Linked DNA regions of Homo sapiens. The protein of the gene in region 1 interacts with the protein of each later gene in a pairwise test. Each region holds a gene or a part of one and is shown in the gene's direction. Other genes may lie near its edges.

The links.
Region 2: the proteins of APOL2 (region 1) and CISD2 interact in binary tests that used the Homo sapiens proteins (3 or more experiments, as listed by UniProt).
Region 3: the proteins of APOL2 (region 1) and TMEM52B interact in binary tests that used the Homo sapiens proteins (3 or more experiments, as listed by UniProt).
Region 4: the proteins of APOL2 (region 1) and EMP1 interact in binary tests that used the Homo sapiens proteins (3 or more experiments, as listed by UniProt).

Annotation. Positions count from the first base shown.
Region 1 is NC_000022.11:36,229,115-36,236,672, reverse strand, and holds part of APOL2 (apolipoprotein L2), read left to right. Parts: exon of another isoform or gene 1-77; intron 78-2,337; exon of another isoform or gene 2,338-2,437; intron 2,438-3,217; 5' UTR 3,218-3,271; intron 3,272-3,431; 5' UTR 3,432-3,510; coding exon 3,511-3,520; intron 3,521-5,206; coding exon 5,207-5,333; intron 5,334-7,558.
Region 2 is NC_000004.12:102,885,756-102,893,313, forward strand, and holds the end of CISD2 (CDGSH iron-sulfur domain-containing protein 2), read left to right. Parts: intron 1-1,585; coding exon 1,586-1,675; 3' UTR 1,676-7,052; downstream 7,053-7,558. UniProt on the Homo sapiens protein: Regulator of autophagy that contributes to antagonize BECN1-mediated cellular autophagy at the endoplasmic reticulum.
Region 3 is NC_000012.12:10,181,940-10,189,497, forward strand, and holds part of TMEM52B (transmembrane protein 52B isoform 2 precursor), read left to right. Parts: intron 1-610; coding exon 611-654; intron 655-3,390; coding exon 3,391-3,429; intron 3,430-4,480; coding exon 4,481-4,650; intron 4,651-7,558.
Region 4 is NC_000012.12:13,213,726-13,220,999, forward strand, and holds the end of EMP1 (epithelial membrane protein 1), read left to right. Parts: coding exon 1-96; intron 97-808; coding exon 809-966; 3' UTR 967-6,216; downstream 6,217-7,274.

The DNA of each region.
Region 1 (7,558 bases):
GAGCTGTTAAAATAAAGTCTGCAAACAAAGACCAGCTGCTGGAAGTGGGTGTGCCGGGGAGTGCGCAGAGACACAAGGTGAGAAAAGAACAATGGTGATTTTGGAGCCGCCCCTAACTGGGATGGGCCTGAATCGGTATTATCATTATTACTTATAGTGTCATTATTAGTCATTTTCATCTTGTTTGTACACTCCCTCTATCTCTCCTCTCCACCTTTTCCTAATATTGTATCACCAGTTTTATGTCCTCCATTAGCAACTTTGTAGCTGTAAACAATTTACTTACAACTTTCTTTCTTATACTCTCAGTTTTACCTAGTATTTCTTGACTCCCCTCTTTAAAAGATGACAATATTAATCCTCCTTCTCCTTCGTTCAGTGCTTCACATCCCAACTGCTACCTTTGTGCTTTAAGTTTGTACTAATCGGTAACAAGTATATTTAGTTCTCATATTTATATGCTCTGTTCTGTTCTCAAAGTTAAAAATCAATCAAGAGTGTTTACATTTTGTGATGTTTTAAATACTATTTACTGTGGAGCTGAGTTGTACACCATGTTTGCACATGTTTTGTGGCACAGCTTTACTTTTTCCTGATGTTTCTAATTGCCTTTGTTTTTTTTCCTCCCTTGTACTGCTTGCCTTCTTCATTTCCTCAGTTTCTCTCAAACTGTGAATCCTTTGAGGTATTCTATTGAGTCCCTTTTTCCCACAGAACCATTCCCTTTTTATTCCATCCTGGACTGGTCGTTTTGTAGGCCTACTGCATGTCCCACTGTGATCCTCAGATTCCCTTCTCTCTGGGTTGATTTTCCTGTTTTCTGGATCCCATGTCTTTTTCTTTCTTGGTTATCCCCACCTGCCCTCCATGGATGCACAACACATACACACACACACACACACACACACACACACACCCACCCACCCACCCTTTCTTCCTCCCGGTGGCTCATTCTCAAGTAGCTTTCTTAGAACACCCTGTGACCCTGTGCCTGGTAACTTTTCTATTCCCCATATAGCTCCTTTTCCTCTGTCATCTTTTTGGTTTATTTTCTGGAGGATTTCCGTGACTTTCTTTCACATGGTCTCTCTAGACTTGTTTATTTGATCATCACCTTTTAGTTTCTAGAAAATCTCTTTTTTTGTTTGTTTCATTGATTTTTCTTCTTTTCTATATATCTTGTTTTAAGTTTATGAATAAAATATTTTTTAATCTCCCTGAGGACATGGGTTTGAGATTTAAAAAATTACTTGTTTGTTCTGGACTCCTTTTGTATTTGGTCATCTTGGTCTGTTTCCCCACTTTCACCTTTCTCCAATTTCTGATCCTAGATCTATTCATATTGAACGGGGTGGGGGGCAGGTCTACTGGCAGTCTTCCCTGTAGGGTGATTGAATGGGAACCCACTGAAGTGTCAGAATACAAAGATATTATTTCTGGGGCATATTGCTTCAGTCATGAACTCTCTGATTTTTTTCACTGGTGTAGACTCAAGGCTGGCATGAATCCCATATGGCACGTGGGCCTGGTGAACTCCTCCCCTCTCTGAGGCTCTGCCTAGTAGACCACTCTGCCTGGCTGGATGCCCTCTTGGCATTGCTGTGGTTCACAGCTCCCTTCACCCCTCTTTATTCAGTTGTCATTTCTTCAGCCAGTTCTGTTTTCCAACATCTCTTGGCATCTCTGATCTCCTGTTGCCCTCATTTAAATTTTCATTGGCAGCAGAGGGTGCAGAGGCAGTGCGTGAGTTCTTGAGTCCGTCTGTCTGGGTGGGAACCCAGTCTTTACCACGTAGTAGATTCTGAGCTTGGGCAAGTCACTGAACATCTGTTTCAGTTTTCTTACCTGAAAATGGAAATACCAATGGTACACACTTCCTAGGTTCTTGGAAGAGTTCTGTGAGTTACTATTTATAACATCTTAGAGCAATTAGTGGTGCAAAATCCACCAATGTTTGCCCACATTAACATTAAGTGCCATTATACCTGTAAGTGCCTTGACTATGGCTGTAGTTTGATCTCAGGAGGGGAGGTTGATAAATGCTCTTCTGTCTTCTTAAAACAGTGCCTAAAGATGATTAATATGATTAACATTTGCTATTTTCCCTCACCTCCCAGGGTAAGATAATCAGGAGCAGAATGTGAAGAACTTTCCTCTATATAAAGATCAGCATTTATTCAGGCCGGGTGTCGTGGCTCATGTTTGTAATCCAGCACTTTAGAGGGCAGGGTGGGAGGATCCCCTAAGGCCAGGATTTTGCCAGCAGCCTGGGCTGCATACTAGGAGTGAGACCTTGTCTCAAGGAATAATGTTTTGTTTTGTTTTGTTTTCCTGAAGAAAAGACTACTGAGAGCCAGTAAGACTGAAAGAATGGACATCTTCATATCCTGTTAGTTTGAGTGTGAATTTGTACAGTTTTCATACAGAGTGGCTCTAGGTATAAAAACTTTTGAGATGTTAATAGCTTTTGACCTAGTCATTCTACTCTTAAAAGTATCTTAAGGAAATAATCTCAAATGTGAGCAGTTTTACGTGAGGGAGGATATTCTTTGTAGCATAATTTATATGAAGAATTAGAAACACCCTAAGGTCCATCAGCTAGGGGAGGACAGCAGAGGGGACGGGGAAGCATCAGGAGGGCTCGGCAGCCACAGCAGGGGCTGGGCCGGCATCTAGCAGGATCCAGGTCTTTGTGGGACAAAGAATCTTAGAGAAGCAACGGGGACACAGGCTGTCCACTGCAGCACCAGTGAGTTCACCAAGACGAAGAGTTGAGCACAGAGTGTGAGACAGGGATTTGCAATGAGGAGTCATTTACCATGAGCGTGTATACATGACTCAATATTGTATATTTAAGGGAGTAGAGCACAGTAATTGAAGACATGGGATTGAAGCAGAAGTCCTGGCTCTAGCACTATTGTGAAAACACCCATAAGTTCCCTAACTTTTGTGGATTCCTCTGTGTTCAAATGGGAAAGTGGTACCCATCTCCTGTCCTGTGTGTGATCATCGAATGAGATACATGTCAGAGGCCATGCACATCACAGACACACAATACACACTGGCTATCATCAACTAGTTATCATACATGTTCCCAGGCCCAGGTCATTGTCAGAATGTTCCCTCCCATCTCTATTCCTGTGTATAGACTCTGTAGTTTCTGTAATGATCAGATGGCTGCCCCTCCTCTGATTATCTTCTTCTCATACCCCTACAGGACAAGAGGACCCTGCCTTGGTGTGAGAGTGAGGGAAGAGGAAGCTGGAACGAGGTGAGTTTCTGTAAATACTAGCTGGCAGGGCCCCAGGAGATAAACACTCTGGACATTTGCTGCTACCACAGAGGGATCTGCAAAGACCCAGCCCCTCCAGCCTCCCTCTGTACACAGGAGGCTCACCTTCGATCCCACAATTTGTTTTCTCGTTCTCAAGGGTTAAGGAAAACCTTCCAGTCTGGACAGTGACTGGAGAGCTCCAAGGAAAGCCCCTCGGTAACCCAGCCGCTGGCACCATGAACCCAGGTAGGCTCGCTTCCTCTTTCCTGGCTAGTTCCTACTCGCACCTAGAATGGAGGGTGGCACCTCCACAGCTGAGTGAGCCCCAGAAGAACCCAGATGGACTAGGAGGCCAATGAGTCTGCCCCGAGCAGCAGAAGAGGTCACGTGGAGTCCCCCGACCCAGGGGTCTGGGGGTCATCTGCATCCTGACCTCTCCTCGGGGTGACACGGCCCAGGTGCCCACTTCCTCCCTACCCTGTCACCCAGCAGATGACTCAAGTGGGGCAGGACAGCCATGAGGAAGTGGAACAAGCAAGAGAGGGGAGTGGGGGAAGAGCAGGGTCCAGGAGGAGGGGAGGGGTGGGAGAGGAGGTTGACCTGCAGCCCTGATCTCTTATCTACCGCTCTTCTCCCTGCTGACCCAGGGTTTTTTCCAGCACAGGCCGGTCCCCTCCCTCCAGCTCTTGCCCTGCACCAGCCCCTCTGTTCTGAGTGGCCCTATGGGAATGTATCATGCTTGACCCAGCTTCCAACTTAAATGGACCCCGGTCTGGCCTTTTCCAAGTCCCTTCTGTGTGACCTGGAGCTCCTTACCTCCCCTCTCGTGTACCATGAAAATAATATTTCCCCATGTTGTCACGAAGATTAAATATTATAAGGGTACCTGGCCTGGCCAAAGCCTGCCACACAGTAGGGCCTCCCTAAGAATTAGTTTGCATCCCCTCTATCTCCTCTATCTATCCCCTGTTGATTCCAGGTGGAAGCCACCCAGTCCCCTCATCTGTGTTAGGGCACCCGCCCTGCACTGCCCATCACAAGCACCTGCTGACCAGGGATGACTGCCTCAGGCAGGGCCTCATTCCCATGATCTCAGATACCCCTTGTCAAAGAAAAATCTGAGGCACAGTAACATTTATTTGAATAAGAAGGAATTCATGAATTGAGAAAACCAAACTGGAAGAGGCTTCATGTTATGATGAAAAAGTGTCAGAGACAAGTATTTATCGAGTAAATATGAAACTGCAATAAGGACATTATTTGATTGGTTGCAGTTACAAAACTGCCTGTTTTGATTTACCTTTTTGGAAAATTCCTGGTCACATTGGTGCTGGTGGGTTTAGGAAGTTCTCCGAATCCAGGAGAGACCAGACCTTAGCCTTGTCCAGGTTTTTGACTCCACTGAGAGAAAAAATTTGAGTCAAAGAAAAAACAAATCAGCTGCAAAGCAGAAGCACAGGCTCAGGGATGGAAGTGCAGGTGGACTCAGAAGAGCCAGTTGGGCCCAGTGGGGTTTGGGGTTTCTGTCTTTGATGGTTTATTAAATTAAGGGGTTGGAGCCTTGGGAGGACTCTCTTGCTGGCTTGCGGCAGCTGCCTTTGCGCTGTGTGCTTACCTGGCCTTATTGTTTCTCTTTCTCTTCTTACAATAGGACACTAGCCCTCTAGTAGGATTAGAGCCCTACCCTTGTGATCTCATTCAGTCTTAATTGCTTCCTTAAAGGCCCAATCTTCAAATATAGTCACTCGAGTTTAGGGCTTCAGCATATGAATTTTGGGGGCACACAATCCCTCTATAGCACTGATGACTCCATCAAACATGTCCCACATCACAGTTGTCCAGGAAAAATTAACATGTAACCACCTAATGTGCAATGGCTGTTATGCTCCCCTACACTATCCTCCAACCTTATCCTTTCTTCTTTCCAACTAGAGAGCAGTATCTTTATTGAGGATTACCTTAAGTATTTCCAGGACCAAGTGAGCAGAGAGAATCTGCTACAACTGCTGACTGATGATGAAGCCTGGAATGGATTCGTGGCTGCTGCTGAACTGCCCAGGTAAGCTCCATGGGGTTAACTCCATGGGGCGCCCCAGCGATGCCACTCAGATCTCCCCTGGGCTGGTTGTCCCTGACAGGCACACCTCCTCCAGGCAGCCCCCTCTGCTGGGCTTGAGGATGACCTTCTCGGCACTCCAGGAGGAATATTTCCTCCATGTCCTTCGCTGGCAGTGAGTAGCCTCAGGCTGAGGGGATAGGAAGCCCACAGGAACAGGGTCATTTCTGCCATCTGCTGGTGATGGGAACTTTGCCAGTTACTTTCTCACTTTCAGCCTTTCTTCATCAATGGAGTTTTATTATGAGAAAAATGAGATCATGCATGTAAAGTGCTTAGCATAATGACTGACACATAGTAGGTGCACAGTTAACGTTAACATCTTACAAGCTTGGTGGAAAGAGACCAGGGTTAAGGATCTTCTTCTTGAAGATGGGAGCCCAGCAGGACTTCCTTTGGGAAAAGTCAGAAAAATCCTAACCTAAACAATATGTGTTCCTGGGGATGCTGGCTGGGGCCTTTTTTCTCATCTGAAGAATTCCACAAACACAGCAGGACCCTTCTGCTGGTCCAGGATCCTGAGAGGCCTAGTTCCTGGGCTCTGGGCTTATGTCATGGAGACTTGGAACTGTCTTCTGTCCAATAGGAATAGCAATTCAATGTCATAGGAGTGTGGTGAAGGCCTTAGAGGCAACTCCAGGTCAAAGGTGGGGAACCAAGGACTAAGATCCTGCTCAAAGGCCCAGAGAGACCGGGACCAGTGTCAGAGCCTGGAGTCAGGATGGAGTAAGAGTCAGCCTTGGTTTGGTAGGACAAGCAGGAAGGCTGGGGCACCAGGGCTGGGACTAGGGTGTGGAAAGAGAGGCACCAAGGGCTTGAAACTTAAGGAGGTCATGAACTTGCAGAGGACATGTGAGTGGGAGAGGGATATTTCTTCCCTGTCTGGATGATCCCAACACTCATGGGCATACAGGGTCATGGTAGCCTGTGTCTCTCACCCCATGCCTTGGAACTGGTGAGTTCTGGACTACCCTTTCAGACCTTCTTCTCTTCTACACAGAGAAGCTCCTTACCATGGCATGCCTTAGTGACCATTTCCAAAGTAGAATGAGTTGCTGCCAATTTGTGTAATTTCAGGGGTACTGAGCAGACTCACAAAGTCCCAACCGAGGAGGAAAACACTTCCTCTACCATCTTGACCAAATTCAGGTCTTTTCAGCATTAGCAATTTATATAGATGGTTCTGAAAGTGTCTTGAGTCTTCTAGTGGTTCCATAAAATTGCACATGGCCTTGCTGTGCACACAGGTGAAGCTGTCACTGCTAAGGCATCAGTTAGGCTGGTGACACCTGCGAGTGAGACCTGGAAGGTTGGGGGTGCAGGTGGTAGGTCAGGAGGCAGTAAGGTGGCTGGAGCGTCCATGTGGAGCCAGAATGAATAGCCAGATCTCCCACTCCAGTCAGCTGGGGCAGTGGCCGCACCCAGTAGCCTTCAGCCAGGTGAAAGGGCATGAGGCATTGGAAGGGAGCAGATGCCAGGCAAAGTGATCTCCTGTCTTTCTGAGGTTTTGTTTTTGTTTGAATTCAAAGTACTCAGAGATAGCCAGACTGCAATGTCTGAGGGCACCCTTACCTTTGACACCACCTGCAAATCTATGGGGATTCCTAAAATCATCCTTAGATTTTATAATTCACTAGAAGGACTCACGTAACTCACTGAAAACTGCTATTGCACGATTGTGGTTTATCACAGGGAAAGAACACAGATTAAAATCAGCCTAAGGAAGAGACACACAGGGCAGAGTCTGGGAGGATTTCAGGTGTGAATCTTCATTGTCCTCAGGAGGCTGTGTTCTCCTGTGTGAATGTGGGACAAAACACATGCGGTGTTGCCAACCAGGGAAGCTCACCCAGTTAAGGAAAAATTCCTGTGAATCACATTAAACCAGAAATGAAGCCTTTATTCAGGATTGTTGTTACAGGGGAGGGAGACTGAGCCCAGCTCCAAATATAGTAAAGACAGAGGGGGAGTCACAGCCAACACCAGGGTGGGGGCGGGAGATGGAACAGGACTGACAGGAGACGCCAGAGTGGGGGGTTCCTGCTAAACTGGCCTAACAGGATTCTCGCCAAAGGCAGGTCAGACCCTCAACCACCAGTGGTGGGGGTGAGGAGCATGATCAGATAACAAACGGTGCTCAGACAGCAAGCGGGGAGGACCCTCCCTAA
Region 2 (7,558 bases), on another chromosome or scaffold:
TCAAATATACTTGTCACAGTATGAGTTTGGTTGGACAAGTTACTTAATTTTTAATCTCTAATCTTCAGGGTTTGTTTTAACCTGATACATCCACATTACATATCTTTGAGAAGTGAGATGATATATGTAAACTGCTTTAATAATATGAGGTAGTAAATGATAGCCTCAATTATAGATGATTTTTAATGTGGGAAGGAGTTTGGAGTGATAAGTACTATAAGTAGTTGACAAAATCTGTTTCTTGTACTTGATCATAGATTATTTGAGGTTTTTAATACAGTATTGCTCATCACAGCATCCTTTGTAATAGCAAAATTTTTATAAACTAAATATCTGATAAAAAGGGAATGATCATGTTTTTAAAGGATATATAATGACATGAGATCCTGATATGAGTAAGAAAGCATATTACAGTGTGATCCCAATTTTGTTTAAAAAACGAATACACGCAGGCCAGGCGCGGTGGCTCACGCCTGTAATCCCAGCACTTTGGGAGGCCGAGGCAGGTGGATCACCAGGTCAGGGGTTCAAGAACAGCCTGACCAACATGGTGAAACCCCGTCTCTACTAAAAAATACAAAAAAAATTAGCCAGGCGTGGTGGCATGCACCTGTAGTCCCAGCTACTCAGGAGGCTGAGGCAGGAAAATCACTTGAACCCAGGAGGCAGAGGTTGCAGTGAGCCAAGATCACGCCACTGCACTCCAGCCTGGGCGACAAGGTGAGACTGTCTCACAAAAAAAAGAAAAAAAAGAATACACACAATAAATGCATAGGAAAAAATATACCAAACTGTTAATTATTATTATGTGTATCTGGATGGGTTATGAGTGAATTTTTTAAAATTTATTTTTATTTATTCTTTATTTATTTTTGCGGGGGACAGAGTCTTGCTCTGTCACTCAGGCTGAAGTGTGATGGCATGATCTCAGCTCACTGCAACCTCCACCTCCTGGGTTCAAGGAATTCTCCCACCTCAGCCTCCCAAGTACCCGAGACACAGGCGTATGCACCACGCCCAGCTAACTTTTGTATTTTTAGTTAGAGATGGCGTTTTACCATGTTGGCCAGACTAGTCTTGAACTCCTGATGTCAAGTGATTTGTCTACCTCTGCCTCTGAAAGTGTTGGGATTACAGGCGTAAACTACCGCACCAGCCTAAAATATATTTTTGTTTTCAAAAATTGTGTGGTATGCATGAGTTTTATAGCAAGAAAAAATTATAATTTATTTTGAATTAAATTCCATTGTTTTAAAATTAAGCAATAGGTGAGCTCGAATTTTAAGCTCCACAAATGACCAAGAACTTATTCGATTCCCTTTTAAACCTGTTGTCTATTTTAATCACTCATATGGACTCATTCATAGGTTTTTATTTAAAATCTAAACCAAATAATGAAGTAACTGTTTAAATTGTTAGATTTTGAATATGGTTCAGTTGGATGTAGAATGTAACTATTACTCAGGAAAACGATCTGATTTTTTTTAGCAAGTGATATGCTTTCTTTCTGAGAGCATTTCACAAATGTTTCTACCTAATGAATCATATTTTAAAAATAACACTTGTAATTCTTTTTTCTTTTTAGTTTCCTGCCTGCGATGGTTCACATAATAAACACAATGAATTGACAGGAGATAATGTGGGTCCACTAATACTGAAGAAGAAAGAAGTATAATAATAATAACAATATTTTCTCATTCTTTGTGTATAGAAAATTTTAAAATGGTGGTCTTAATTATTACTACTGGTTGAACAATTATTTCTTCCAATTTATTTTCTTCCTGCACTACTGTTTGTATTTGATCCTTTGTCTATTCAGTCACTTAATTAGAAATTAAATTGTCAAGCCTCTTATTCTGACTTCAAAGAATTAATGTATCTTCCAACAATAAAATCACTTCTGATTTTAATCTAGGAAAACCTAAATTGTGGCTATGGATCCAAAGCTGTTTGTTTCTTTGAATATCAATATTTTCAACAGGATCTTGTATTTAAAATTCCCACCTACATTGTTAAATATGTTATTTTTTCATATCTCTTTTGGTTTTGATAATCTGAAGTGTTTTTTTCTCGTTTTGGCCTTCCAAACTGCATTTGGTTAGGTGAATTAAGAAAAATATTGCCATCAAGAATTACTTGTGTTTTCACAGAGATAGACTCTTTGCTTTATAGAGATTGTTGTGTATTTAATATGAATATCCCAGCTTTAGAAAAGAAGTAAACTGGATACAAAAAGTTCCATTGAGGAACAGTTATTTACAGTATAAAAGATTTGTTTACTTTACAAAAGGCTTGTGTCTGTGTGTGTGTGTGTGTGTGTGTGTGTGTATTTTAAACTGACTCAGTGACAGCTGGGGTGGAATGGCAAGAACACTTACAACCAAACTCATGGGCTGCTGCAATTTGAAGATAATTGGTAATAAACATAAGACATTAATTCATATTAAAATAGTTCAGTGTTCAAAATTGTGTTTATGTGGATATTTTTCTCTTTTTAACACTATAAACCATTAAAATACAGTCATCCCTTGTATACGCTAGGGACTGGTTCCAGGGCCACACATATACCAAAATCTGCCCATACTCAAGTCCCACAGAAAGTCTTGCAGAACCCATATGTAGAAAAGTTGGCCCTCCAGTTGACCCTCCGTACACATGAGTTTCACATCCCATGCACAAATGCTGATCTGTGTGACCTCACCTGCATTTGATTGAAAAAAGTATGCGCGTAATTGTACCCACCCAGTTCAAACCCGTGTGTAAGGGTCAACTGTACAAAAAAGTTTGTGAAATAAACGTACTGGAGAATCTTTAAAATTTTTGTGCTTTTTAATCCTACTATTATGAATCTTTTTAGTTTCATCTTACATTACTACTCTCATAATAGCTATCCTTAGCCAGGTGCCATGGCACAGGCCTGTAGTCCCAACTGCTGGGAAGATTGAGGTGGGAGGATGGCTGCAGTACAAGAGCCCAGGAGTTCAAGGCCAGGCTGGGCAACCTAGTGCTCCGCCTCTGCTGGGCTCTGTAGGGAATCCTTTCTGTTGTAAAAGAGTTACCATTTAACTCCCTTCACTGAGTGCGTTTCTGAGACCTTGCTAGGCACTCTGGAAACTGCTTAGTTGAGAAAAGACAAATACAAAAGCTTTTCTTTAGTCTATTTAAGATACAGTTTATTCAGTTCACTTTGCTTTCTTTTTATAAGAATGTACAAGAGGCAGACAGAGGTAATCCTTCTAGAAATAAAACTAATTGTTATTGGGCACTTGTATGTACCAGACACTACACTAAGCATGGTACTTGGGTTTTTAATTTATTACATGTAATGTCAGTAGGTTCAATTATATGATCGTAACATCTTCATGACCAGCAGCATGTATTTTAGAGTTAGAAATGTAGTCTGGTTTTTGAGAAGTTTTACAAGGTGTATGTCCAAAATTGTTCTTTCCTCACATGTCAGTGGGGGATAAATACAGCATTGCTCTCACTTCTTTGACTCTGGGTGCTTTTTCGGATACATTTTCTTCAACACTGTTAAGGGGCCTCACTGTCAGATTAACCAATTATTTTTCCACAGTTGGTCACCAGACTTTGGAAAAAATCCACCTCACCAAAATTTTGGATATCCTGATCTGTGTTCATGAAATGCTCTTCTTTTTGTAAAATCTATCACTGCATCTCACAGCAACTTGTTTTCACACATGTTCTAGTGGTTCCCATAACTTAGATTTTACAGGAGGCAAATTTACTAAAAATGAGGAGACTAAAATGAATGACCAACTTTGAATTTTGTCAAATAACATTGAAAATGAATTATCTCATAAAAGGTAATTTTAATACCCCAAAAGTAAGATGGTTGTACTCTCAGAATAAAGACTTTTTCCCTGCCACATTTTCAGTTGTTAAAATATGCTAAGAGCTATGCCCATATCTTTTCCCACCTGTGCACATTTTTCAGAAGCGTAGGGTTGGTAGTAAGCTGTTGCTTTAATAACTCCTTTAAATAAGCATTATTAGCAGTTTGCATTACTTCTTGTAAATTTACACAATTTTATCTTGTCCATCTTTAAAAAATAGACATCTAATAACCAAATGTATTTGAATTGATGCAGTGTAAGTAACTTGTAGAACTTGAGGATAAGTGGTAAAAGAAAAAAAAAAGTAACTTGGCTCTTGAAATACATGTCTTCGGTTTCTAGAGCCTTCAAAATACAGCCCTGTTGTTACTGCGTCACATGATTGTTTTGAGGACTGCTTCTGCTTACCTAGGAAACTACTCATGCCTTACTCAGCAAATGAACATCACTATTACATAAACATCAGGTATCCAAAAGTGTTAGCAGGCTTGAGGTATGAATGATTCATTCATATGGGTAATTAAGCAAGTTGAATTATGGAAAGCACCTCACAATTCACACAATTCAGCTTTGAGTTCAATGCCAAATACGATGATTCATTAAGTTGACTTTGTATTTTGTAACCTAATTTGTTAATAAGTAAGTTACAGGAAGCCAATTAAGCCAGCTGCTGATCTATATAGTACTACCTTCCTCATTGTGATTCCATAGTCTTCCAATAGAAATGTGCTGTCAGAATCTGTATAGAGAGTTTGTAAATGCCACTATTTAACAAGGTTCTTAAGAATTTAGGTGGATGTTTTATTTGATACCTACCAAAGAAGCCTAAGTAATTGTATAATACTTAACCCATTTAGAATTCAGTTGTGGCAGCATAACCAATCTGGAGAGACCAGGGGAGATGTTACTAATGCTTGTACTTTATTCAGAAATGAGTGCCTCATTGGCTTGGTGCAGTGACGACACACCTGTAATCTCAGCACTTTGGGAGGCTGAGGTGGGTGGAGTACTTGATCTCAGGAGTACCATACCAGCTTGGGCAACGTGGTGAGATCTCATCTCTACAGAAAAATGCAAAAATTAGCCGGGCACAGTGGCGCACCAGTAGTCCCAGTTACTCGGGAGGCTGAGGCACAAGAATCTCTTGAGTTGAGGAGGCCAAGGTTGCAGTGAGCCAAGATTGTGCCACTGCACTCCAGCCTGGGCAACAGAAGTGAAACCCTATCTTAAAAAAAAAAAAAGTCTTTTTTTTTTTTCATCTAATCAAATTTATTGTGGCAGAAATCAGTACGAAGTTCGTAGGACAGGAGGAAACCAATATAAATATCTCAGCATTGTAGGAAATTTAACCCATGGAAAGCAGGGGTGAATTAAAGACCACTTTGAAGGCTGGGAAAAGCAGATAATTTAGATATAGTCAAAGTATGAAATCATTGATAGATCCAGAACAAGGAAATGATGTATGTGTTTACATATTACATCTACTTTATTAACAATTTTCCCTCTGTTAAACTAATATCGACTAATAGTAGTCTAGGTAAGTCAAGTTCAAATTAAGTGGTAATTGAAAAAGTCTTCTTTTTAAAAAATTTTTAATGGTAGAGGCAGCAGCTACCCAGAGTCTACTTATTCTTACTTCACATTGAATTCTAACAAGTTTGGTTATCTGATTTCTGCTTCTTAACAAATCACAAGTATCAAAAGGGTCTTGCAGAAGGGGTGAACTACAAAATGTGACAGCTGACAGCAAGTCAGGGGAACAAAAATAAATTTAAGGTGAACATTAAAGGCATAGCAGCTTGAGACAATTTATAGGATTCTGCATACAACTGTCTCTGAGGACATCACTGTGATCAAATTATACAAGTGATGTTTAGTGATGAATTGGAATCAAGATAAGTAGTATGTGTTATTCAAAAAGGCAGGATATGTGTTGCATTTGGTGGTAACAATTTCCCCTTAGCTATTTAGTTAAAAGCTTAGTGCTTAACATGTTGGAAAATTTATATGTAAAATATATTGACTTACTCGATGATTGGAGGCTTTATCACAGGAAGTTTTCCCATTCAATTGAAACATTTTTCAAGCTTAATGACTATAATTTACTACATAATTATTTATTTTGTTAAAGTTTGAGGAAAACTAAATAAAGCAGTAGCAATTTAAGTCATAATAAATTTTGTTAGATGACTTCTTCCACTTTAGGGGGAATTAAAAATCATGTTTAAAAACCACATGTGCAGCAGTTCTGTGACTCCCTCAACATCCGGTTGGCCATATAGTCCCTTTGCACCACAGAGGTTGGAGTATAGAATATGCCCAAAGCTGTTTTGTTTTGTTTTAACTATGCTTCATCATCTGAGGTTGTGTTAACATAGTTTGTCCTAATAGTCTTTTACTGGAAACTTGCTATATTTGATCATGTTCAGCAAGTAAACTAATTTTATCTACTTTCATATATTTTGAGACAAAGTCTGGCCCTGTCACCCAGGCTGGAGTGCGGGGGCATGATCGTAGCTCACTGCAGCCTCAGCCTCTTGTGCTCAAGCGATCCTCCCACCTCAGCCTCCCAAGTAGCTGAGACTACAGTCATGCTTCATCATGCCCGGCTAATTTTTTATTTTTCTAAGAGACAGAGTCTCACTGTGTTACCCAGGCTGGTCTCGAAGTCCTGGACTCAAGTGATCCTCCCTGCCTCAGCACTCCCAAAGTGCTGGGATTGCAGGCATGAGCAACCATGCCTGGTGTTTTATCTTTTGCAGAAATCCAATTTAGTAAAGTCATGTTGTAGCAAGCATCACTTTAATATAAAAAGTGTACAGCTTATATTATTAGCAATTGTACTGTTTAATTTTATATTAGTTATGGTCTTGAAGGACATTGAAAATCTGTTCAGAAAGACTATGTTTTTCAACCAGAGATGACATCACTCTAACTTTCCTTTGGTTTAAATGCTTGATTCTTCGCTTACAAAACTTCTGTTTTGAACAACTATGGTGAGAAAGTATATTTGTGATACTGTTTTCTTAGAACACTGTTGTCAGATAGATCAGCCATAATGTTAACACATTTCTGATCTCTATTATAAGGCTGTAATTTTCCAAAATAATACAGAAAAGGAGAAAAGGGTAGTACATTTCATAATTAGAGATAACCCTGTACTAGTGAGAAAATAAAAATGTCAAGTTTATTAAATTTTCAGATTTCCTGTAATTTTTCCATTACTATCCCTCATAAATTTCTCTGCATGATCACACTAAAGATATAAATTAATCACATCCATTCAACAAATTAAGAAACTCAAAACTCACAAGTACAATCTTCAACCCTATAGAATGCTACCAAGAAGTAAAATAAGATGAAGGTAGAAAGATTCTCTTTGAGGGCCAGGTGCGGTGGCTCACACCTGTAATTAATTCCAGCACTTTGGGAGGCCAAGGCGGGCAGATCGCCTAAGGTCAGGAGTTCAAGACCAGCCTGGCCAACATCGTGAAAACTCGTCTCTACAAAAATATAAAAATTAGCTGGGCATGATGGCGGATGCCTGTAATCCCAGCTACTCGGGAGGCTGAGGTGGAAGAATCGCTTGAATCCAGGAGGCAGAGGTTGCAGTGCGCCAAGGTTGTGCCATTGCATTCCAGCCTGGGCCACAGAGCAAGACTCCATCTCAAAAAAAAAAAAAAAAAAAAAAAAGAAAAAGA
Region 3 (7,558 bases), on another chromosome or scaffold:
TTGCTTGAACCCGGGAGGTAGAGGTTGCAGTGAGCCAAGATCACGCCACTGCACTCCAGCCTGGGTGACAGAGCAAGACTCAAAAAAAAAAAAAAAAAAAACAAAAAAAAAAAACTTGTTAGCAGTCTGAGTGGCATCTAGTAGCTATTCGATAAATAAGACTCTCTGTCCCACTGGCCCCCTCGCTTTTCCCCTTCTTCCTTTGTATAGTCATTGTCACACTAACAGGATAAAAAAAGAGCAGTGGTGTAGAATTCAACTGGGCAGGAATTAGGAGGACAATGGCAATATCCCAAGGGACAGAGAGATCAGGAATTTTCTACTACAAACAAATTAATGTAAATGGCTACCTCTCATTCACAAAGGGTGATGCTCACCCACCATCAACACAACAGATGAGATATTTGTTCTTCAAGGTTCCCTTACCTCAAGTACAAAAGCCAGCAAGTATGGGAGAGATGAAAATGGCAGTCCTAAATAGACTGCCCCTATGACCGTGACCTTCTTACTGCTTGATCTAACACAGCACAACCATGAGAGATGATTGGTAAGCAGCTGAACACAGTGGCCAAAACAATTTCCCTGTATAAGACAATTTCTCTTTCTACAGCTTTCTGGGACGAGATGTGAGGAAAACTGTGGTAATCCTGAACAGTAAGTATAGAGTTCAAGCTGGGAGGAAGGAGCAACAGACCAAAACATCACTACCCCAAAAGAGAGTCAAGATGTCATTAGACATCTATGACTTCTTTTTATTTATTTTTACTTAAGTAATAGATCTCATAGATGACTTATCACAAAATAAAGACGTGTTTTTGTCATCTTAAGCACTCAAAATAACACTGCTGACAGCATGTTTTTACCCAAAGCCAATCTTCCCATCAAAGCAGCACGATTAATCTCAACTTATACAGTCATAGAGACTTGCAAAAGACTTCCTTAGCCCTGCTCCTCAGTGACTCACCAGGACAGACGGTTTAGTATCTAGTCACTGGCATATATATTTGGGTGATTTCCAAAGTAACATTATTACTTTAAATTGGGAAAGTATTTTCTAGTTTTTAGGGCATGTTAACATTTATTGGGCAGACTTCATTTAGCTATCACTTTGATGTAGTTATCAACTAATCCAAACCTGTCACACTTAAGTCTTATGTAGACACAGAGGACATGAAGATAAAAATGCAAAAGAATCATTCCACTTAAAGGAACTGTAAAATACAAATTTTAAAAAGTAGTGGCACTTTGAATAAAAACGTGTTTAGGATGAAGAAAAATACATATTTAGCCATGGGAAGGGTTTCCCAATAGCCAGGTCTGTTAAACCCAGGGAAAGGGTGATAGCCTTGATTACCTGTCACATGCAAATTGGGTGTTGACTACTTGACACCTGCTTTCTGAGGTTTTACACATCTTCCACCATAGGAAGAGTCCTTTCCTATAAACCAGAGTCTAATTAGAACTAGAAGAGTTTTCAACAAGTAAGAAATGTGGGAAAACCAAGAGGAGTCATTGTTCAGTGAAAAACAAAACAAAACTATATTTTCTATAAATGTGTGACCAGAGAATAAAAATAGATTCACTAGATTTCAGTAGATTCCTGTATCAGAAAGAATTATTAAATAACAAAATTTACTACTCTTCAAAGATACACAAATATTTTGCCTCCCCTCATTCTCCAATTCCTGAACTTATCTTCTCCTTCTCCCATACAATCCCTATTTTTTTTTCATTCTTACAGAGAAAATTTACAATTGCCATAGTGAACTCAGAACATTATTTAGCTTTCATCATGGTAAAGTTGGCTTCTACTTTTTTCCCTCTTCCTGTTTGGTCTCAGTGGATATGCAAATTAGTTTTGATCCTGGATGTGAAAAATTAGGGTACTCTTTACGGTGGGTGTGATATTGTGAGAATATATATTTGGTTTTGTCCCTATCTCCTAGCATACAACTTCTAAAATCCCCAAAGTAAGTAGCATCATTTTGCATGCTAATGAGTTGATTGGTGGCTGGCAGCCCCTAGGTAGATTTAGGATGGGGCTGGTCATTGGAAGGACCAATGCAGAATGCTTAAAGCCTCACCCCTCAACATCCAAGGAAAGTAGAGGGGCTGAAGTTTAAGTTGATCATCAATGGCCAATGATTTAATCAATCACGCCTACATAATGAGGCTTTCATGAAAATCCCAAAGGATGGATTTGAAGAGTTTCTGTAAAGCTGAACAGGCAGTGGTTTCTGAAGGGTGGTGCACTCGGAAGACCTGCAAGCTCCGTGCCCCTTCCCACATGCTTTGCTCTACGCATCTCTTCATCCGCATCCTCGGTAATATTCTTTGTAATAAACTGTAGATGTAAGTAAGTGTTTCCCGGAGTTCTGTGAGCTGCTCTAACAAATTAACGCAACCTCAAGAGGGAGTCAGGGAACCCCCAATTTATAACCAGTAGGTCAGAAGCACAGGCAAAACAAATTGTGATTGGCATCAGAATTCTGGGGAGCCGTCTAGGGGACTGAGTCCTCACCCTATGGGATCGGATCCTATCTCCAAGCAGGTGGTGTTGGCATTGAATTGAATTAGAGGACGCTCAGCTGTTGTCTGTTGCTGGAAGATTGCTTGCCTGGTGTGTGCGGAAATCCTCACCCACCCACATCTGGTGTCAGAGGGTTGGGAGAGTATAGCAGGAAGAAACTAAGTTTTTTTTTTCCTACATTCTCAGTGGGAGTGTTGCAACAGCTTGCAAAAGATAAATTACAAATGTGATTGTATGACTTTCATACTCATAACTGAAATTTTCTTTATGTTTACATTTTATTGACCTCAAATATACACAAGCCTTAAGTTTCACATCCATTTTCAAAGTTACTCTTTGTAAACTTGCATTCCAAGTTCTTTCTTAGTATTTTTTTTTTCTTTTTGAGATGGCGTCACCACGGCCGGCTAATTTTTGTATTTTTAGTAGAGATGGGGTTTCACTATGTTGGCCAGGCTGGTCTCCAACTCCTGACCTCGTGATCTGCCAGCCTTAGCCTCCCAAAGTGCTGGGATTACAGGCATGAGGCACCGCACCTGGCCCTTTCTTGGTCATTTTTATCATAAATGTTTGCAATAGGCACAGACATGTTTTCTATGGACACTTCTAATGATCACTAGTTTGTTTTATAATGATTTACAAAATGACTCAGACAATGCCATCTATAGTATAAAGTACTATTTAAAGCATATCATTTGGCAAAAGATTCAACTAGCTACAGTGAATTTTAAAAACATAACCCATGGTGCTTTATTTATAACAAGGTATCACATCATATTGTAACTCATATTTCTGAGTCTGGAGTTATAACAGGGATTGACTATATTTTTAATGTAGAAAACTTTATTCTTTCTTTATAGTTGCCTGACCACAGACTGGGTACATCTCTGGTATATATGGTAAGTTTCACTTATAATACCCAGAAAGACACTGTATTCCTCAAGGCCATTAAAAATGACAACCTGCCTACTTACTTAGCATCTCATGGAGTAAGATTTCATTACTTCATCACTACCTATGTGACAATATGTCAGGATTTCCTTTTTCAATACCATCTCCTCCGCAAACATCAAACCATTACTGTGTCCTTCCCTCGGAGTCTGTTCTAGAAATATCTCAACGAAGATTACTTTAGTGAATTAAAAAGCAGAGCCTGGCCGGGCGTGGTGGCTCACACCTGTAATCCCAACACTTTGGGAGGCTGAGGCAGGCAGATCACTTTGAGGCCAGGAGTTCGAGACCAGCCTGAGCAAAATAAAGAAACCCCCATCTCTATTAAAAATACAAAAAAAGTTGGGCGCGGTGGCTCACACCTGTAATCCTAGCACTTTGGGAGGCCGAGACAGTGGATTATCTGAGGTCAGGAGTTCAAGACCAGCCTGACCAACCTGGAGAAACTCCGTCTCTACTAAAAATACAAAATTAGCTGGGCGTGGTGGCACATGCCTGTAATCCCAGCTACTCAGGTGGTTGAGGCAGGAGAATCGATTGAACCCAGGAGGCAGAGGTTGCGGTGAGCTGAAATTGTGCCACTGCACTTCAGCCTGGGCAACAAGAGCAAAACTCTGTCTAAAAAAAAAAAAATTAGTCGAGTGTGGTGGCATGTGCCTATAGTACTGGCTACTCAGGAGGCTGAGATCGTGCCACTTCACTCCAGCCTGGGCAACAGAGCAAGACTCTGTCTCAGAAAAGAAAAAAGAAGCAGCCCCCCAAACTACCTTAAATGTCTTACTATTTGTTCTAATGAATTGACTTACTGCAGCTGACAAAATAAGGAGGTGTATCTATAAAGCAAAAGCCTTGAAATTAAAATTATAAATTAAAATATTTATAATTATTCTATAAAATGTTTAGACAAGAATCAAAACACAGACATTAAAGACTGGTTACAGCAGAGCTGGGAAAAAAGCCAGATCCCAGAGCTCCCACTCGCCCCGTGGGCTTTTGCAGGTTGCTAGTGGTAATTGGCGCGCTGCTTCTCCTGTGTGGCCTGACGTCCCTGTGCTTCCGCTGCTGCTGTCTGAGCCGCCAGCAAAATGGGGAAGATGGGGGCCCACCACCCTGTGAAGTGACCGTCATTGCTTTCGATCACGACAGCACTCTCCAGAGCACTATCACATGTGAGTACACTGAACTTTTAACCTGGGAGGAGGACCCAATTTAAGGGAATAATGAAAAGGGTGCAAAGGTGTAGAACCACTGATCGAGTAATATTAAAGATTCCAGGACTCACAATAATTTCCATTCCCAGAAGCCTGATGGTGCAGTGACCTGGGCTGTCACTGAAGCTGTGTTCTCAAGGGTCTGTCTGGCTCATGATAAAGAAAGAAGTGAAATATTGGAGGCTATTGGAAATATTGAATAGGAAGAATTAGCCAGTTTATAAATAGTTACTTTGCTAAAAACTATTTTGAACTCCAAACGGATGCCTTTTTCAAAACGTCTTGGATTTTGTGAAATCTACTTTTTCTATTATCTATACTATTTTATATTTTTAAAGAAATTAATGACATGTACTTTCAGTTCTTTATTCTTCAAGGCTTGATACACTAAATTTTAGCCTTAACATTTTCTCAATGATTATAAGACACTTTCCCTTTTCTTCTGTGGTTCTATTCTTTCCATGACGGTTTTTTTTTTTTTTTTTTTTTGAGATGGAGTCTTGTTCTGTCGCCCAGACTGGAGTGCAGTGGTGCAATCTCAGGCTCACTGCAACCTCCGCCTTCCGGGTTCAAGTAGTTCTCTCCCTTAGACTCCAGAGTAGCTGAGATTACAGGCACCTGCACCATGCCTGGCTAATTTTTGTATTTTTAGTAGACACGAGGTTTCACCATCTTGGCCAGGCTGGTCTCAAACTCCTGACCTTGTGATCCACCTGCCTCCGCCTCACAAAGGGCTGGGATTACAGGCGTGAGCCACCATGCCTGGCCAAAATGGTTACTTTCTTTTTTTGACACGGAGTCTCCCTCTGTTGCCCAGGCTGGAGTGCAGTGGTGGGAATCTCAGCTCACTGCAACCTCCGCCTCCTGGGTTGAAGAGATTCTCATGCCTCAGCCTCCTGAGTAGCTGGGATTACAAGCAGCCACCACCACACCAGGCTATATTTTTTTAAATTTTTATTTATTTATTTGTTTATTTTTATTATTGGTAGAGACAATTTACCATGTTGGCCAGGCTGGTCTCAAACTCCTGACCTCATGATTCACCTGCCTCTGTCTCCCAAAATGCTGAGATTACAAGCATAAGCCACTGTGCCTGGACTATGCTCTTTCCTAAAATTGAGGAGCAAGTACCAGTCAGAACACCAGCTGGCAAAATGTGGATATTTATTTTGAAAAGAGAGTGATGGCTGGGCGCAGTGGCTCATGCCTGTAATCCCAGAACTTTGGGAGGCTGAGGCAGGTGGCTTACTTGAAGTCAGGAGTTCGAGACCAAGCTGGTCAACATGGTGAAACCTCGTCTCTACTAAAAATACAAAAACTAGCCAGGCATGGTGGCACACACCTGCAATCCCAGCTACTTGGGAAGCTGAGGCGTGACACTCGCTTGAACCCGGGAGGCAAAGGTTGAAGTGAGCCGAGATCGTGCCACTGCACTCCAGCCTGGGTGAGCGACAGAGAAAGACCCTGTCTCAAAACAACAACAACAACAAAATAGAATGATATGATGTGTTGCTGTTCACCTTTCCTACCTCCCCTTTCTCACTGTCATCTTAGGAAAAAAGGATAACCAAGGCTGGGCACGGTGGCTCAGTCCAAGGCGGGCAGATCATCTGAGCTCAGGAGTTTGAGACCACCCTGGGCAACATGGTGAAACCCCGTCCCTATTAACGTACAAAATTTAGCTGGGCGTGGTGGCACGGGCTTGTAGTCCCAGCTACTCGGGAGGCTGAGGCACGAGAATCATTTGAGCCCAGGAGGCGGAGGTTTCAGTGAGCCGAGATGGCGCCACTTCACTCCAGCTTGGGCTACAGAGTGAGACACCATCAAAAAATAAAAAAGGAAAGAAAGAAAGAGAGAGAGGGAAGGAAGGAAGGAAGGAAGGAAGGAAGGAAGGAAGGAAGGAAGGAAAAGAAGAAAAAGAAAAAGAAAAAGAAAAAGAAAAAGAAAAAAGATAACTGGGCATGGTGGCTCATGCTTGTAATCCCAGAACTTTGGGAGGCCGAGGCAGGTGGATTATTTGAGGTCAGGAGATTGAGACCAGACTGGCCAACATGGTGAAACCCCACCTCTACTAAAAATACAAAAATTAGCCAGGCACTTTTGTTGGCCAGGCACGGTGGCTCACACCTGTAATCCCAGCACTTTGGGAGGCCGAAGCGGGTGGATCACAAGGTCAGGAGATCGAGACCATCCTGGCTAACGCAGTGAAACCCCATCTCTACTGAAAATACAAAAATTAGCTCGGCGTGGTGGCGGGCGCCTGTAGTCCCAGCTACTCAGGAGGCTGAGGCAGGAGAATGGCGAGAACCCGGGAGGCGGAGCTTGCAGTGAGCCGAGATCGCGCCACTGCACTCCAGCCTGGGCGACAGAGCGAGACTCCGTCTCAAAAAAAAAAAAAAAAAAAAAAAAAAAAAAAAAAATTAGCCAGGCACGTTGGCACATGCCTGTAATCCCAGCTACTCGGGAGGACGAGGCAGGAGAGAATTGTTTGAACCTGGGAGGTGGAGGTTGCAGCGACCCGAGATTGTGCCACTGCACTCCAACCTGGGTGACAGAGTGAGACACTGTCTAAAAAAAAAAAAAAAAAGAAAAGAGATGAGGTAAAAATAAATAATCCTAAGGAGTCTATAGTATCGGGGGCTGGGGGAAAGGGATCTAAGTCTGAAAGGGGAAAGGGCAGGGTTGAGTTGCAGGATGCAGAAACATTCTTGGCTGGGTGTGGTGGTTCACTCCTGTAATCCCAGCACTTTGGGAGGCCAAGGCGGGTGGATCACCTGAGGTCAGGAGTTCAAGACCAGCCTGGCCAACATAGTGAAACCCTGTCTCTACTAAAAATACAAAAATTACCTGGGCATGGTGGCGGGCG
Region 4 (7,274 bases), on another chromosome or scaffold:
TCTGTGTCATTGCCCTCCTGGTCTTCGTGTTCCAGCTCTTCACCATGGAGAAGGGAAACCGGTTCTTCCTCTCAGGGGCCACCACACTGGTGTGCTGTGAGTATCTCATGGGTAGACTCCAGTTTACACTTTTAAGTCCATCTTACCATGGGTGTTTCTGGCAACTTGAACAGATTAGCACATGGTTCAGTGAAACTTCCTTGTGCAATTTTCTCCTCTGGTTATTTGTTCTCTTGTGGAGAACCTTGGATTGCTGCTTAGGTTAAGAACCCTCATCTGCTTCATTGTTCAAAACCAGTGCTCCTGGGTAGCTACCAAGTGGCAGTGCATATCTGTTAGTAGCACGTGTGTACAAGACACTTCAAGAAGGCAGAAAGGTAGGAGTTCTCAGAAAGATGAAACCACTGCCACAATGCACATCATTATTGTGATTCTCACTTAATTGTTGTTCTTTCCCAATATACTCGGTTTGGTGGAAGGACATGCTCTTTTGCATCCCTGAGTAGCTTTCCTAGACCCACAAGGGCCAGACAGGACAGCTGGGTGGTAGGCATGAGGTTCTGTGTTTTACATCACAGCGTGGCCACACAAACCAGTGCAGACATGAGAGCCCAGACACCTCTAATTTATCAACATACCGTCGAGCTTGGCCCAGGGGACATCCATCAGAACTCCTGTTTAGGGACAAACAAGCAGAATTCATTTTCCTATTGCTAATGAGGGAAATAGGATCTTCTTAAAATTAGTAAAACTTTTTCTCGACTTTAATGTAAGAAAACACACCGACAAATCTCCTTTTCCCCTGCAGGGCTGTGCATTCTTGTGGGGGTGTCCATCTACACTAGTCATTATGCGAATCGTGATGGAACGCAGTATCACCACGGCTATTCCTACATCCTGGGCTGGATCTGCTTCTGCTTCAGCTTCATCATCGGCGTTCTCTATCTGGTCCTGAGAAAGAAATAAGGCCGGACGAGTTCATGGGGATCTGGGGGGTGGGGAGGAGGAAGCCGTTGAATCTGGGAGGGAAGTGGAGGTTGCTGTACAGGAAAAACCGAGATAGGGGAGGGGGGAGGGGGAAGCAAAGGGGGGAGGTCAAATCCCAAACCATTACTGAGGGGATTCTCTACTGCCAAGCCCCTGCCCTGGGGAGAAAGTAGTTGGCTAGTACTTTGATGCTCCCTTGATGGGGTCCAGAGAGCCTCCCTGCAGCCACCAGACTTGGCCTCCAGCTGTTCTTAGTGACACACACTGTCTGGGGCCCCATCAGCTGCCACAACACCAGCCCCACTTCTGGGTCATGCACTGAGGTCCACAGACCTACTGCACTGAGTTAAAATAGCGGTACAAGTTCTGGCAAGAGCAGATACTGTCTTTGTGCTGAATACGCTAAGCCTGGAAGCCATCCTGCCCTTCTGACCCAAAGCAAAACATCACATTCCAGTCTGAAGTGCCTACTGGGGGGCTTTGGCCTGTGAGCCATTGTCCCTCTTTGGAACAGATATTTAGCTCTGTGGAATTCAGTGACAAAATGGGAGGAGGAAAGAGAGTTTGTAAGGTCATGCTGGTGGGTTAGCTAAACCAAGAAGGAGACCTTTTCACAATGGAAAACCTGGGGGATGGTCAGAGCCCAGTCGAGACCTCACACACGGCTGTCCCTCATGGAGACCTCATGCCATGGTCTTTGCTAGGCCTCTTGCTGAAAGCCAAGGCAGCTCTTCTGGAGTTTCTCTAAAGTCACTAGTGAACAATTCGGTGGTAAAAGTACCACACAAACTATGGGATCCAAGGGGCAGTCTTGCAACAGTGCCATGTTAGGGTTATGTTTTTAGGATTCCCCTCAATGCAGTCAGTGTTTCTTTTAAGTATACAACAGGAGAGAGATGGACATGGCTCATTGTAGCACAATCCTATTACTCTTCCTCTAACATTTTTGAGGAAGTTTTGTCTAATTATCAATATTGAGGATCAGGGCTCCTAGGCTCAGTGGTAGCTCTGGCTTAGACACCACCTGGAGTGATCACCTCTTGGGGACCCTGCCTATCCCACTTCACAGGTGAGGCATGGCAATTCTGGAAGCTGATTAAAACACACATAAACCAAAACCAAACAACAGGCCCTTGGGTGAAAGGTGCTATATAATTGTGAAGTATTAAGCCTACCGTATTTCAGCCATGATAAGAACAGAGTGCCTGCATTCCCAGGAAAATACGAAAATCCCATGAGATAAATAAAAATATAGGTGATGGGCAGATCTTTTCTTTAAAATAAAAAAGCAAAAACTCTTGTGGTACCTAGTCAGATGGTAGACGAGCTGTCTGCTGCCGCAGGAGCACCTCTATACAGGACTTAGAAGTAGTATGTTATTCCTGGTTAAGCAGGCATTGCTTTGCCCTGGAGCAGCTATTTTAAGCCATCTCAGATTCTGTCTAAAGGGGTTTTTTGGGAAGACGTTTTCTTTATCGCCCTGAGAAGATCTACCCCAGGGAGAATCTGAGACATCTTGCCTACTTTTCTTTATTAGCTTTCTCCTCATCCATTTCTTTTATACCTTTCCTTTTTGGGGAGTTGTTATGCCATGATTTTTGGTATTTATGTAAAAGGATTATTACTAATTCTATTTCTCTATGTTTATTCTAGTTAAGGAAATGTTGAGGGCAAGCCACCAAATTACCTAGGCTGAGGTTAGAGAGATTGGCCAGCAAAAACTGTGGGAAGATGAACTTTGTCATTATGATTTCATTATCACATGATTATAGAAGGCTGTCTTAGTGCAAAAAACATACTTACATTTCAGACATATCCAAAGGGAATACTCACATTTTGTTAAGAAGTTGAACTATGACTGGAGTAAACCATGTATTCCCTTATCTTTTACTTTTTTTCTGTGACATTTATGTCTCATGTAATTTGCATTACTCTGGTGGATTGTTCTAGTACTGTATTGGGCTTCTTCGTTAATAGATTATTTCATATACTATAATTGTAAATATTTTGATACAAATGTTTATAACTCTAGGGATATAAAAACAGATTCTGATTCCCTTCATTGTGTGAATGTTTTTTTCTAAAAAAAATGTGGAGAAATATGGATAATTATGACATTTATCCCTCATTAAGCTGCCTATCAGTTTGATTTGGACAACTTGACATTTATTTGAGACATTAAGCTACTTTCTGGTAATATATTAGGCATTTCTGCAATAGCTCTTTCAGGTAACTGAATATTATTAAGCATAGTTTTATCTTGCTTTGATTAAACCTCTTAGGCAAAAAATGGAACTTCATAAGCTAATACATTAGAAAGGGGTTATGATTATAAATCAGAAATGCTTGTGACATTAAGAAATGAGGCACTTGTGAAATTTCTTTGAAATAGCCAGCTCCTCTAATGTGTCTTCAAAATATAAAGTGATTCACAAAGGCATGCATCACACCTATTTGTAGCAGCCCATTCATTACATAAACCAGGGCATACCTGTGTGGGCTCTGTGAGTGAAGGGAGGCTTCACTACTTTCTGTGAGCAGTAAGGACTGGTATCTTTCTGTGAGCAATAAGGACTGGATAAAGACTGCATATCCTTGTGTCGTGTCAGCACCAATACAATAAGGAGGGTTTTAATGTGAAGCAGGCAATCTTCCAGCCCCTTCTGGTCTTGGATGAAATAGTTGCACAGAGTATTGCACCAAAAATACACAATGGAGGCTGAAAAGTTCAACATATTTTAAGTCAATTAATCAAATTGCATTGATTCTTGATGCTTTCTTAGAGGCCTACATGATTTCTTAGATTGCTCTGATAAACTATCATAAGGGGTCCACCTCCCCTCATTTAGCTCCCCCAGGGATTTCTTTTCCCCCATGTCATACACCCAGTCCTAAATCAACCCCCAAGGCTATCCTTCCATCCCTTCTGCAGAGGGAACTTTTGTCAGACTCTGCAACAAACTCCTAGCTCTATCCAGAGTGTCCTCTGCTGCTAAGATTGGTATCTTTCTCCTCAAAAGCCTGGATGGTGAATGGGGGTGCATTAGTCAGAATTCTCCAGAGAAACAGAAAAAATAAGATTCGCGTGTGTGTGCAAACATATATATAAATAAATAAAAATATATTTATTTTAAGGAATTGACTCACATGATTTTGAAGGCAGGCAAGCCCAAAGTCTGCAAGGGGTGGGCCAGCAGAGAGCTGGTGCTACAGTGCGGGTCTGAAAGTTGCCAGAGTCCCTTTTATAGAGAAGCTTAAAAAATATTTGTTGAATTAAATGTCTTAGGTAGAGACAAATTGAATTAAAGTGGTTAAGTAAATACTCTTAGGTGAAATTTGTGCAAATTATGAGTATAAAGAGGGTGAGCTACAGAACTCTCCATGACCACTCAAGAATGGGACCCAAAGGCAAATGATAACTTATTCATTCATCAAGGGATAAACTTGAGTTATCAAATGGTTAATAGATAAAGATCCCACTCTGCCTTGGATTTAGCCATCGCAGTCCCTGTGTAAAACCCCACCGGCTTTCAGGCATGGAAAAAAATTTCACAAAGGCCTTGAAAGAAGGCATATGAAGACCAAAAGGATATTGAGCAGGGTTCCATACTTGAATAAAGGAAGAAACTCCCTTCAATGTTTACTAAGAAATAGTTAGAATATAGCATATCCTGTATAGATGAAATGTCCTAGCGAAAATGTTTAAATGTATTTAAAGAAGAGCTAGATTTTGTGGGGGGAGAGAAGGGAATAGGATAGGCTGGTGGGAGGAAGAATGAAAAGAAGAAAACTTGTTGGAAATTTTGGAGTAGATTGTGAGGAGGGGTGACTCACTTTAAAGATGTATCATTTGGAGGTAGACACGATTTTCAGAGCACAAAACAGATAAGGAAAGATGTATGCTGATTGTGTGGAGCCCAAGGGAAGGCGGGGTTTTGGAGTCTTACGTGGCTTTGTTTCTGAAAGGGAGACATGTGAAGCCTACTCCTGAGGCGGGAGGCTGGGGACATGACCATCAAGACCTATAATTGATAAACAACTAGGGGCTGGGTGCTGCACCTACATGCTGGGGAAATAGAAAATGAAGCAGACATGTGTCCCATCTTCTTCCAGCTTTCAGTCTAGCTTGGAAATAAATCTCATACCTAGAGAAAATGGAGGATCTGTGGGATGTAGATGAGGTGGGAGCATGAATGCCTAGGGAGGGAAGAAGAAAGATTTTCAGTTCTTCAGCTTTTCCTCATGACCCTATCTCATGCCATGAGCAATTGTCTGGCATCTCCTGTGGGTTGGACCACTGCTGCATTTCTTACTTGCCAACATCACTTTGTCCCAAATGCCATTCCTTTGTTCCAGGGCCTCCTTGTCTTCCATCTGGGGAACTGGAGGTGAGAAGCATTATAATAGCCTCTCTGCCTTTATCTACAATCTCTCCAACCTGTGCTTTATGCTGATGTCAGGATGGGCGTTGATGGATGCTTCTATCACTGTCGGGGCAGGGAGGGCCAGAACACTAGCATAAGATGTCAATATGTCTATCCATATGTCAGGTCCATACTCAACTCAAGCTTCTGGTTAACTGCTGATCTATTGGCAACTCCAGTTCCCAATAAGTTCCTCATCTCCTTCTGAGACCACCTCAGTGTGGACTTAATCGTCCACATCACTGTCAGCATTTTGGTTAAAACCATTCAACAAGTCTCCAGGAAGCTCCAAACTTTCCTTCATCTTCCTGTCTTCTTCTGAGCCCTCCAAACTCTTCCAACCTCTACCCGTTACCCAGTTCCAAAGGTGCTTCCACACTTTCAAGTATCTTTATAGCAATGCCCCACTCCTGGTACCAAATTCCTGTATTAGTCTGTTTTCACACTGCTATGAAGACATACTTGAGACTCGGTAATTTATATAGAAAAGAGGTTTAATTGACAAAAAAGCTAACAAAGTGAGCCCTGATTCAAAAATGACTGTCTACACTTGGCACATGAGGGACTTTATGATATTAAGAGATTAATTAAACAACAGTGGATGGGGAGGAAGAACAGACTTTTGAGCTCTTCCCAATATAGGAATGTGTTAGTTCTAAAAATTTTCTTAAGTTGTTTGCTTGGAACTCAGAGTATATTTTTCCATACGAAAAATTCAGAACTATTTTATTTATGATATGGGCTAAAAAGACTTCTGTAATCTAGCTTGGAAACTTAATAATCATTAAACTTATTTTCAATGAGATACGACTGTTTAAATTCTGAAACCTGGAACCCTCTGTTGCCCTGCAAATGCTTTAGGAAAAGAAGAGTGTGTCTGATGGAGGATAAGATGGAAAGTGAATATGGATCCATATTCAGAAGACACGGTTGCATTACAGCAAAGGAACAGCTTTTTGCTGGCCATGCTAAGCATTTGACATTGATGTGGGAGAACATGGCATTCAGTATGACTCTGTCTGGATATATATAGTTTTGTAAATTGGGTGTTCTTAAGTTGAGACTGCATGTTTCATTCCAAAATCAATCTTAGTTTTCCCACTTGCATTAGCATATTGTATTAGTCCGTCTTCACACTGCTATAAAGACATACCCGAGACTGGGTAATTTATAAAGAAAAGAGGTTTAATTGACTCACAGTTCTGCATGGCTGGGGAGGCTTCAGGAAACTTATAATCATGGCAAAAGGGGAAGAGGTACGTCTTACATGGTGACAGGGGAGAGAGAGCATGCAAGAGAAGGGAAAACTGCATTATAAAACCATAAATTTTATAGAACCCACTATCCCAAGAACAGCATGAGGGAACCACCCTCATGATCCAATCACCTTCCACGGGGTCCCTCCCTCAACACATGGGGATTTGGGGGATTACAATTCAAGATGAGATTTGGGTGGGGGAACAGCCAAACCATATCATGTATCAATGCTTAAATTCAGTTTATCTGGGAATTTTGAATGATTCCAACTCCTTAGTATAGACATTTACAGGCTTTTGGGCATTATGAAATCGTACTATTTTTAATTTGATTTCACCACTTCTCCTCTGTCTTATAAAAAGCTGACATTGAGCACATGTGTCCTTATAATTTTTAAGGTGAATCAAAAGTAAACCTGTTTTGAGTATTTGGATATAGTTTTGCAGTAGCTCTTGAGGTTACTAGGGTTGCAAAATCAAGTTTGAGAATTATAGTGCTAGATTTATGGGTGAAATGGATTACACTAATTAGTCTGACATTTAGTCACCTTGTTTTAAAAAAGCAAGGCAATATTCTGGCAGTGATATTGAACTCCAGATTTCTTTC